Homo sapiens: one gene and its partner. The protein of the gene in region 1 interacts with the protein of each later gene in a biochemical or structural test. Each region holds a gene or a part of one and is shown on either strand. Other genes may lie near its edges.

Evidence for each region. The genes of interacting proteins can lie anywhere in the genome.
Region 2: the proteins of ESR2 (region 1) and DDX54 form a complex in vitro, tested with the Homo sapiens proteins (one study listed by BioGRID).

The regions. Positions count from the first base shown.
Region 1 is NC_000014.9:64,276,737-64,281,761, reverse strand, and holds part of ESR2 (estrogen receptor beta), read left to right. Parts: intron 1-1,608; coding exon 1,609-1,781; intron 1,782-5,025.
Region 2 is NC_000012.12:113,181,917-113,186,835, forward strand, and holds the start of DDX54 (ATP-dependent RNA helicase DDX54), read right to left. Parts: upstream 3,563-4,919; 5' UTR 3,536-3,562; coding exon 3,362-3,535; intron 1-3,361. Other genes in the region: RITA1 (RBPJ-interacting and tubulin-associated protein 1), read left to right, coding at 4,098-4,105, 4,767-4,919.

The sequences.
Region 1 (5,025 bases):
AGGATATGTGTACTCTTTAAATGCAAGGTAACATAATGGATTATTTCCATCTAATTATTAATATTTCTAATGATAATCATAGGTATGAAGGGAATGGATAGTATAATGAGAAAGGAGAGGGGGAGATAAAAATCTAAAAGTACTAAGGGCATGTTGGATATTGAAATTCACTACTTTCAAATATTATCATAAAACTTTGAGACAGTAACATTGCACCATTATTTTTCTTCTTTTAAAAACATTTTACTCATTGGTAAAGAGAATATAAACATTGTGGATAACTTTTTTAAAGTAATGGTTTGTTTTTTTTTTCTCCTTCCTCCTTTAAAGGAAGACATATTTTGTTTCTGAGCATGAATTATAATCAAAGTTCTGCTAATTTTTGGGCAAATTAATCCATTATATAATTACCTTCATTTATAAATCAATAATACCTTTACCATTCCCTTTCCAAAAGAACCATGCCTGGCAACATCAGGAACTAGCCAGATGTGTTTTGGAGGCTGCCTGGGGATCCCTTGTTAGACTTTTCGTTCCTTTATGAACCTCTTGCCTGTGGTCCAGCATTGAGCCTCTGCTTCCTTCCAAGCCTTTCCAGGCCAGGCACTTGCTTGTTCTCTCTCTTCTCTTCTCTCTTCTTTTTTCTCTCTCCCTTTCTCTTCTCTTCCCCCTTTTTCTTGTCTCACATTCATCTCAAGGTAACTTAAAGTCCATTTGTTATTCCTCTTAAAGTTATTTTTATTTTATTTTTTTGAGATGGAGTCTCACTCTGTTGCCCAGGCTGGAGTGCAGTGGCACAGTCTTGGCTCACTGCAACCTCTGCCTCCCGGGTTCAAGCAATCTCCTGCTTCATCCTCCAAAGTAGCTGGGATTACAGGTGTGCACCACCATGTCTGGCTAATTTTTGTATTTTTAGTAGAGATAGGGTTTCACCTTGTTGGCCAAGCTGGTCTCGAACTTCTGGCCTCAGGTGATACGCCCACCTTGGCTCCCCAATGTGCTAGGATTACAGGCATGAACCATTGCGCCCAACCTGAAAGTTATTTTAAATCTAGACCTTTATCTGAAATTGCAGAGTGTGAGATGTTTGTTCTCCATTTAAATGGGAACTTCAAATGTCTGAAGGGCTGCTTAGCAATGCTGTTGGGAATGACTGATGTTTGGAAGTGGTTGAATGCCTTCACACCCATCCATGCAGCATTCGTGAACTCTAGTAACTACAGAAGACCAATGCATATCCTGCCTGTGGTTCAGACCTGTGGGTAAGATTTGATCTGGCCACTCCTTTCATTACACTTAGAGATGTAGCTCCCACCCCATGGCTATGACTGGTCTTCGGCAGTGACAAATGCTCATCAGCATCACGTGGATGGGCATAAACTCACCTACCCACTTTCAAACATTAGTCATTCCCCACAGCGTGGCTCTTTGTAGATATGATATCAGTATCAAAAGCTTTGCTGTATCAGATTTCCGGGAATATATTTACCAGGAACCCTGGAGGAAAAAGAGATTAAATTAGGCAATGTTCATGCTATTTTTTTTTCCTAGAAAGCCCTTCCTTTCCCTTTTATGCTCTGTTCAATGGATATTTTCTTTGCTCCCTAGAGAGACACTGAAAAGGAAGGTTAGTGGGAACCGTTGCGCCAGCCCTGTTACTGGTCCAGGTTCAAAGAGGGATGCTCACTTCTGCGCTGTCTGCAGCGATTACGCATCGGGATATCACTATGGAGTCTGGTCGTGTGAAGGATGTAAGGCCTTTTTTAAAAGAAGCATTCAAGGTACAAGAGAATTGTTAACTGCTTCTTTAGTTTCCTACTTTTGATTTCAAACAATTTTGCAGAGATGACTTGGCAGAAATGTCACTACTGGCCTGTTTGGCACACAAAGTATTTGATGAGCAGTTCAGAGGATCATGTGTGTTTGGAAGTGGGTTGGGTGGTGGGGTGGAATTGCAGATTTCTACCCCAGAACCCCAAGATTATACAGCCAACTCGAATGGGTCTTACCCCTCGTTCACCCACATGGGTGTTGGATAGAAGACATCGAGTTACAACCTTGTGAAGATGTCTCTTGGAAAAAATGTGCTCACAAGGAGTTGCAAAGATTGTTTCTTTCTTTTACTTAAATTTAATATATAGCATGCTTAACAGTCATGATGGTGGGCTGGCTCCTGAGGAAGAAAGAATAAACACATTTTTTGGAAATGGTCAGAAATCAGGAATTCAGCTACAGTGGACTTTGAGAATTGATCTAGACACATTTCTTCCCCTAGGCTAGGAGGGTCTCAGTTCACAATCCCCTTGTTTTCTGGGCTGTGTTTAGATTATTTCCCTAACTTTCTCTAAACGCCTTCTGGATTTTTTTTTTTAAATCAACTTGTTGATGAAAAGAATCAAACTCTGTAAAATATTTGAAGAGATTTATTCTGAGCCAAATATGAGTGACAAATGGCCTGTGACATAGCCCTCAGGAGATCTGAGAACATGTGCCCAAGGTGGTCAGGCCACAACTTGGTCTTATACATTTTAGGGAGACATAAGGCATTAATCAATGCATGTAAGATGTACATTGATTCAGCCTGAAAAGGCAGGACACCTGAAAGCAGGGGCTTCCAAGTCACAGGCAGTTCAAAGATTTTCTGATTGGCAATTGATTGAAAGAATTATTATCAGTAGGAAGCAATGATTGGGTTACAATAAGGGATTGTGGAGACCAAGGTTTTATCATGCAGATGAAGCCTCCAGGTAGCAGGCTTCAGAGAGAATAGATTGTAAATATTTCTTAGGGGTCTTAAAGGGTCTGTTCTATCAGTGATTCCAAAAGGGGAGGGAGGGTATAATGAACCATGTCTGTCTCCCTTGTTCCATCATGGCCTAAACTTATTTTTCAGGTTAACTTTGTAATGCCCTTGGCCAAGAGGAGGGACCCATTCAGATGGTTGAGGGGCCTTAGAATTTTATTTTTTGGTTTATAAACTTCAAGTTGTGCACCCCTGATTTCAAGGCTGGTCAGCTCATCTCCCTGCATGTGTCTTTGCTACACTCCTTCTCTCGTACCAGCCCTGATTTGCTGAAGTCACTTTCTTGCTTACTCTTGTTTTCTCTATTTGCCCCATAACCTGTCCCTCAACTGCTCCCTCCCAGGCAACACCCTATGTTTCCATCTGAAAGCTCCCTTCCTTTTTCTATCAAAGCCCCAATGCTTTGTTCTTTGCCAGTTAAGAAAAGCAACGTTGAGAGAATTCATAGTGTGTAAATGGCAAATAGCAATTTACTAAATTAACTCACCCATTGATAACTCTAAGAGGATGTTTTACCTTAAGCAGAGAAATACTGATAGAATCCAGGATATGGTGAGGAGTGAAATGTTGGTAGTCACCTTCCTACCTGTCCCCTGAAATTCACCCTGTATGAATGGCAGCCTCTTTGTCCTGGATTTTATAATTACTAGCTCTGCGACTTCACCTCCTAGCCTGTTTCCTCCTCTGTGAAATGGAGATACTCATAGGGATTTTCTAAAGATGAAATAAGGTTGATTATATGAAAACATATTCAGTGCTCAAATATTTTATTTGTGACAATCTTAACAGTAGATTATAAGGCCAAGTCCATTTCCTGGCTATATGATAAGAACAATATTGATTTTCTGAAATTCTGAACTGAATTCTTGATACGATGACTATTTTGTATCTTGCTGAGTTTCTAGGATTTTACCCCTTAAGAACGTTTGGACCTATTACTACTAACCATATCTTTTAAAAAGAGATCCTTCTTTTTTTTTTTTGCTTTTGGGGAAACATTGGTCTGCTTGAAACATCTTTGACCCCTGAGACTACAGCTAATAACAATTGAAAGTAAATTTCCTTTGCTTCTCTATGTTGTTTCTTCCTTCCTGCTGCATCAGACAGGAATGTCAAATTCTAAATGTGCAAAGAGGAAAGAGTTAAAGCTGTTACAGTTGTACAGTTGTAGTGCCTAAATGATCCTTTCTTTGCATGCTTCCTGTCTTTGATATAAGTGCATTACAGTAACTGAAAGTGGCCACTTATTTTTAAAATTGTCTCAAATAGGCCAGGATGGTACAGTATTGAGAAATTCCTTGCATGTAACTTTTTTTTTTTTTTTTTTTTTTTTGGAGATGGAGTCTCATTCTGTCACCCAGGCTGGAGTGCAGTGGCACAATCTCGGCTCACTGCAAGCTCTGCCTCCCAGATTCACACCATTCTCCTGCCTCAGACTCCCAAGTAGCTGGGATTACAGGAGCTGGCCACCACACCCTGCTAATTTTTTGTATTTTTAGTAGAGACAGGGTTTCGGCATGTTAGCCAGGATGGTCTCGATCTCCTGACCTTGTGATCCGCCCGCCTCGGCCTCCCAAAGTGCTGGGATTACAGGTGTGAGCCACCGCACCTGGCCCATTCTTATGTTTTTTATAATTTTAAACTTGTCTTGCTAACTTGATTTATAAGCTAATTGACCATATCTTAGTCATGTACCTGTCCCCTTCACTGTACAAATGCACTGGAAGCTGTGTTGTGCTTGCTTTTCCATTGATACTTTGTTGGCTTCTTCACACAATGAGTTGCCATCAGAGTGATAAGTGCTGTTGTTTCTCTACTGGGTTATGGAGCACAGAGGAAGGAGGACATAGGGAGAAGGACCTCATCACTTCATCTGGTCCAGATGACAGCATGGCTTATTTTTTGAGCTTATCCTTTACTTTTTGTTCTCTTTCCTATTGGTGTTCATTTAACAAATATTTATTGAGCATTGTACCAGGCTCTACGGATGCAGTGGTGAACAAGACAATAGATTATAGATTCCATGAGGGCAAGGATTTTTGTCCATTTTGTTCACTAGTGGCACTTACCAATTCCTTGAATATGATTTTTCAAAATTAATTGGGCTTATACACAGAGTTCTGTATCATTTTTCACTTAATATTGTCGTATAAGCATTTCTGTTGTTAAATTTCCAGAGACCCTTTTCACAACTGCACAACTGTGTAATATTCTATCTTATG
Region 2 (4,919 bases), on another chromosome or scaffold:
TGAGGTGGGTGGATCATTTGAGCCCAGGAGTTCCCAGACTAGCCTGGGCAACATGGTAAAACCCCATCTTTACCAAAAAAGAAAAAAAAAAAAGCATTTACGGAGCAGCAATTCATAAGAGTGGCTGAAACTTACAAGGTATCTACTATAAGCTAGGTGCTGCTCTGAGAATTATACAAATTAACCCACTTAATCCTCACAACAATCTGATGAAGTGGGTACTATTGTTCTGTCCATTTTACAGAGAAGAAAACTGAGGCACAGAGATACAGTGACGTGCCCAAGGTCACACAGCCAGCAGGTAGTGGGTGAGGGATGTGAACCCTGGCTTCAGAGACTGTGTTCTTTTCACTGTGACCCTCTAAGATTAACTACAATCCTCTAGGGCAGAGCCATGGCCTGTCTTGAACAGTCTGTGAGTTTAGAACGGTTTTTACTTTTTAAAGGGTTGTAGAAAAGAAAAAGAAATCCAACAAAAAAGACAGTGATCTTATATGGCCCAACAAAACCTAAAAAAAAGATTTACCATCTGGCCCTTGATAGGTCTGCCAACCCCTGCTCTAGGTACATGAAAACAAGGTGCCTGGGACACACAGGCGCCTGCAATAGCTACTGAATGTATGAACAGCATGTCCTTCAGTCTTCTTCTTTTTTTTTTTTTGAGACAGTCTCGTTCAGTCACCCAGGCTGGAGTGCAGTGGCAGGATCTTGGCTCACTGCAGCCTCCACCTCCTGGGTCCAAGCAATTCTCCTGCCTCAGCCTCCCAACTAGCTGGGACTACAGGCACATGCCACCAGCCCGGCTAATTTTTGTATTTTCAGTAGAGATGGGGTTTCACCATGTTGGCCAGGCCGGTCTCAAACTCCCGACCTCAAGTGATCCGCTCACCTTGGCCTCCCAAAGTGCTCGGATTACAGGCATGAGCCACCACGCCCAGCCTCCTTTGGTCTTTTCAACACTTTTTTTTTTTTTTTGAGACAGAGTTTCACTCAGTCTCCCAGGCTGGAGTGCAGTGGGGCAATCACGGCTCACCTAGCTCAGGTGATCCTCCCACCTCAGCCTCCCAAGTAGCTGGGACTACAGGCACACACCACCATGCCTGGCTAATTTTTGTATTTTTTGTAGATGCAGTCTCGCCATGCATGTTGCCCAGGCTGGTCTCGAACTCCTGGCATCAAGTGATCCTCACTCCTCGGACTCCCAAAGTGCTGGGATTACGGGCATGAGCCACGGCACCGGGCCAACAACCTTTGAAACATATATAATCATTTACTTGCCTTCTACGGATGTGGAAACGGGCACAGAGAGGTTAAGCAACCTCTCCAATGTCCCACAGCCAGTGCAAGGTTGGGCCAAATTTGAACACAGGGCAGTGCCGTGAGAAGCCCTTGGTCTGAACTACACTTAGACTCCTCTTCTTTGGTAATAACCACCTCTGCCCGCCTGTGCTGTTCATTACCTTTAGTAGTTTCTCTACATTTGTTGAGCACCTACTGTGTGCCAGGTACTGGCTAGGCTGGAAGATGAGAGAGGGACAGTGGGATGAGGTCTCTTCTAGTTCCTGCCTTGGAGTGTGATCCTTTCTCTTCATATAAATGTCCACTTACTCATCTTGCCCTGAGCCTACCTGGTGCCAGGCACCCGCTGGGAACAGGACTGTGGGAAATAATGGGCGCAGCCCTTCTGCCCCATTGGTGCTCACACCCATCCCTTCATGTGCATACACATGACATTCAGTAATGGAAACGGCACAGGCCTTGGAATCAGACAGTCTCAAGTTTGAATCTCCTGGCTCTTGTACTCACAAGCTGTGAGGTCTTGGTCAAGCTGCTTTCTCTCTTTTTTTGTAAAGATGGGATCTCCCTTTTTTTTTTTTTTCTTTTTTTGGAGACAGAGTCTTGCTCTGTTGCTTATGATGGAGTGCAGTTGTGTAGCCACAGCTCACTGTACTCTCCGCCGCCCAGGTTTAAGTGATCCTCCCACATTGCCTCTCCAGGAGGTGGGACCACAGGTGGGCGCCACCAAGCCAGGCTAATTTTTATTTTTTGAGACAGAGTCTTGCTCTGTCACCCAGGCTGGAGTGCAGTGGTGCAATATCGGCTCACTGCAACCTCTGACTCCCAGTTTCAAGCGATTCTCCTGCCTCAGCCTCCCGAGTAGCTGGGATTACAGGCACATGCCACCACACCTGGCTATTTTTGTATTTTTAGTAGAGACAGGGTTTCACCATGTTGGCCAGGCTGGTCTTGAACTCCCGACCTCAGGTGATCCGCCTGCCTCAGCCTCCTAAAGTGCTGGGATTACAGGCGTGAGCCACCGCGGCCATCCTAATTTTTTAATTTTTTGTAGAGACGGGGTCTGCCTATGTTGCCCAGGCTGATCTTGAACTCCTGACCTCAAGCAATCCTCCCACCTCAGCCTCCCTAAGTGCTGGGTTTACAGGCGTGTAGCCACTACACCAGGCCTTTGACTATTTCTTAACCCTCTAGGCCTCAGTTTCCTCCTGTAGAAAAATGAAGATGACAGTTGCTGGTGGTGTTAGCACAACGTTGGTGTGAGGATTAAATAATAAGGCTCGTACAGCTCTTAGCATGGAGCCTGGCACATAGTAAACGGTCAACAAACACAAACTGGCCGGGCTCACGCCTGTTAATCCCAACACTTTGGGAAGCAGAAGTGGGAGGACTGCTTGAGGCCAGAAGTTCGAGACCATCCTGGGCAACATAGGGAGACCCCCGTCTCTACAAAAAATTTAAAAATTATCCGGGCGTGGTGGCGCATGTCTGTGGTCTCAGCTACCGGAGAGGCTGACGTGGGAGGATCGCTTGAGCCCAGGAGGCGGAGGCTGTAGCAAGGCGTGGCTACACAACTGCACTCCGGCATGAGCAACAGAGCAAGACTCTGTCTCAAAAAAAATTGTTTTAATTCGTTTCCCAGAGGTTTGGAGGCGTCACACTGTCTCAAGCCACGCAGTCTGGCCTCCCCTTAATTCAACCTCCCAAGAACGCTCCAAACTCTCAAAGTCAGATCTTCTGCACCCGCACTTTTCATTGGGCGAAAGGGAGCCAGGATCCGCCCCACGAGCAGGAGGCAGCCAATGAGAGACGCGCGACCAAAACCCGGCAGGAAGGCCCGCAGGCTCCAGCCCCGGGATCCCAAGGCTCTGGCCGCGGAACCCTGAGCCTGACAAGCCCCGAGACACGTGCTCAGGCCGGCGGTCCCAAGACCGGTCCTCGGGTCGGCAGCCTCCCTCCCCACACTCTGCGGAGCCCAATCCCCAGCTGGGGAAACTGAGGCCTCGAGGCGCTGCCCGGAGCCGGGTCTCGGGCCCGAACATGCGTCCCAGCCCCACGCGCCTACCTTCCGGGCCCGGGCGTCATCTTCCGCCTGGATCTCAAACTCGCCGTCCTCCGAGTCGCTGCCGCGGGCCTGGGAGGCCGCGCCTCGGCGCTTCCGGAGCCCTTTCTTCTTCCTCCACTGGGCCATGGCAGCTCGCGACCGAGGTCCAGCCGCCGGGCCCTTGTCGGCCGCCATTCGGGCCGCGCGCTGGGAACGCAGAAGGGGGCGTGGCCTGAGGAGCGCACCAACTGCGTGGGGGGGGGGGAGGTGCGGTGACCACGTGACCTCCGCTGAGCTTTCGCCAGTGCCTGCGGCCCTCGGCGGCCTAGTACACACGCACCTGAGTGAGTGGCACCAGAGGACCCTCTCCATGTTTAGGGACCTCCTGGGCCTCAGGAGCGTGGCGCCCGCCCCTGGGCGGACTCCCCCCATCCGCGGGCGCGAATGGTCCGGGCCGCGTCCGCAGTGCTGCTGGCTGCTCCCTGGTTGCTGGGTGCAAAGTGCTGGGTTCTGGGTTTCTGGATTCGCGGGCCGTTCACACGTAGCCTGTGCCGGCTCCTCGGGTGAGTCCGTCCGCGCGCGGTGCCCCGGGACGGCCTAGGCTGCCGGGGGTCCGGGGCCCCAGGCATTCCGGGCTGCAGATTGACGGGGATCCCGGATGCACCGCGCGCCCCCGCGCCCTCACCGACGGGTCCAGACCTGGTGGGAAGAAGGTGCGGGGACGGGTCCCTGAGGATCCCGATGCCTACGAGCCAAGATGCTCAGGTAGGAGAACAACCCAAAAATGCAGGGACCTCGGGCACTTTTTAATCGGGTCATTGATTTGGGAGTCGCAGAATGTGGGGCGGTGGGGGCGGCGGTGATCTCCCGATAGCAGTGTAGCCAAGTACACAAGCTCTGGACTCAGATTTCACTTCCACCGTTTTAGCTTTATAGGTGTGACCTACACATGTGACTTCACCTCAGTTTTGTGATCCGTAAAATGGACAAATTCGAAGCTACTTCACAGTGCTGTTGAGAGGATTAAATGAAACAATGCTTGTAAAGCTCTTTGCAGGAGGTAGGCATGGGATCCACGCTGGCTGTCATTGCCCCCACCCCCATCAGTACACATAGGAAAGTGCCTGTCTCCCCTACCACCATAGTGTGTTTTCTGGTTGGTGCCTAAATAGACACAGGTGTCATCTCTCCTTCACCGCCAGAGTCATTCTGTAAATAATTGCCAGTAGCCCCCCTTTCACCACCATTATGACAACTAAAAAAAAGCCAAAGAAATTTCCAAAATGCCCCCTGAAGTTGACAGCTCCCCTTTGAGAGACTGGTTGAGAGAGAACTAAACCCTTGGGATGAGAACTTCAGACACTACCGGTCTTCCTCCATTAGCACTTCTGTGGCTCAGGGGTGCTACTCTGACCTCCTCTCACAGGGAGCCTCGGAAGCAGGGCCTGGCCGGCAGAGCACACCTGCTGTCACCAGGGACCACAGGCAGCATGAAGACCCCCGTGGAGCTGGCCGTCAGTGGGATGCAGACCCTCGGCCTTCAGCACCGCTGCCGAGGTGGCTACCGGGTCAAGGCCAG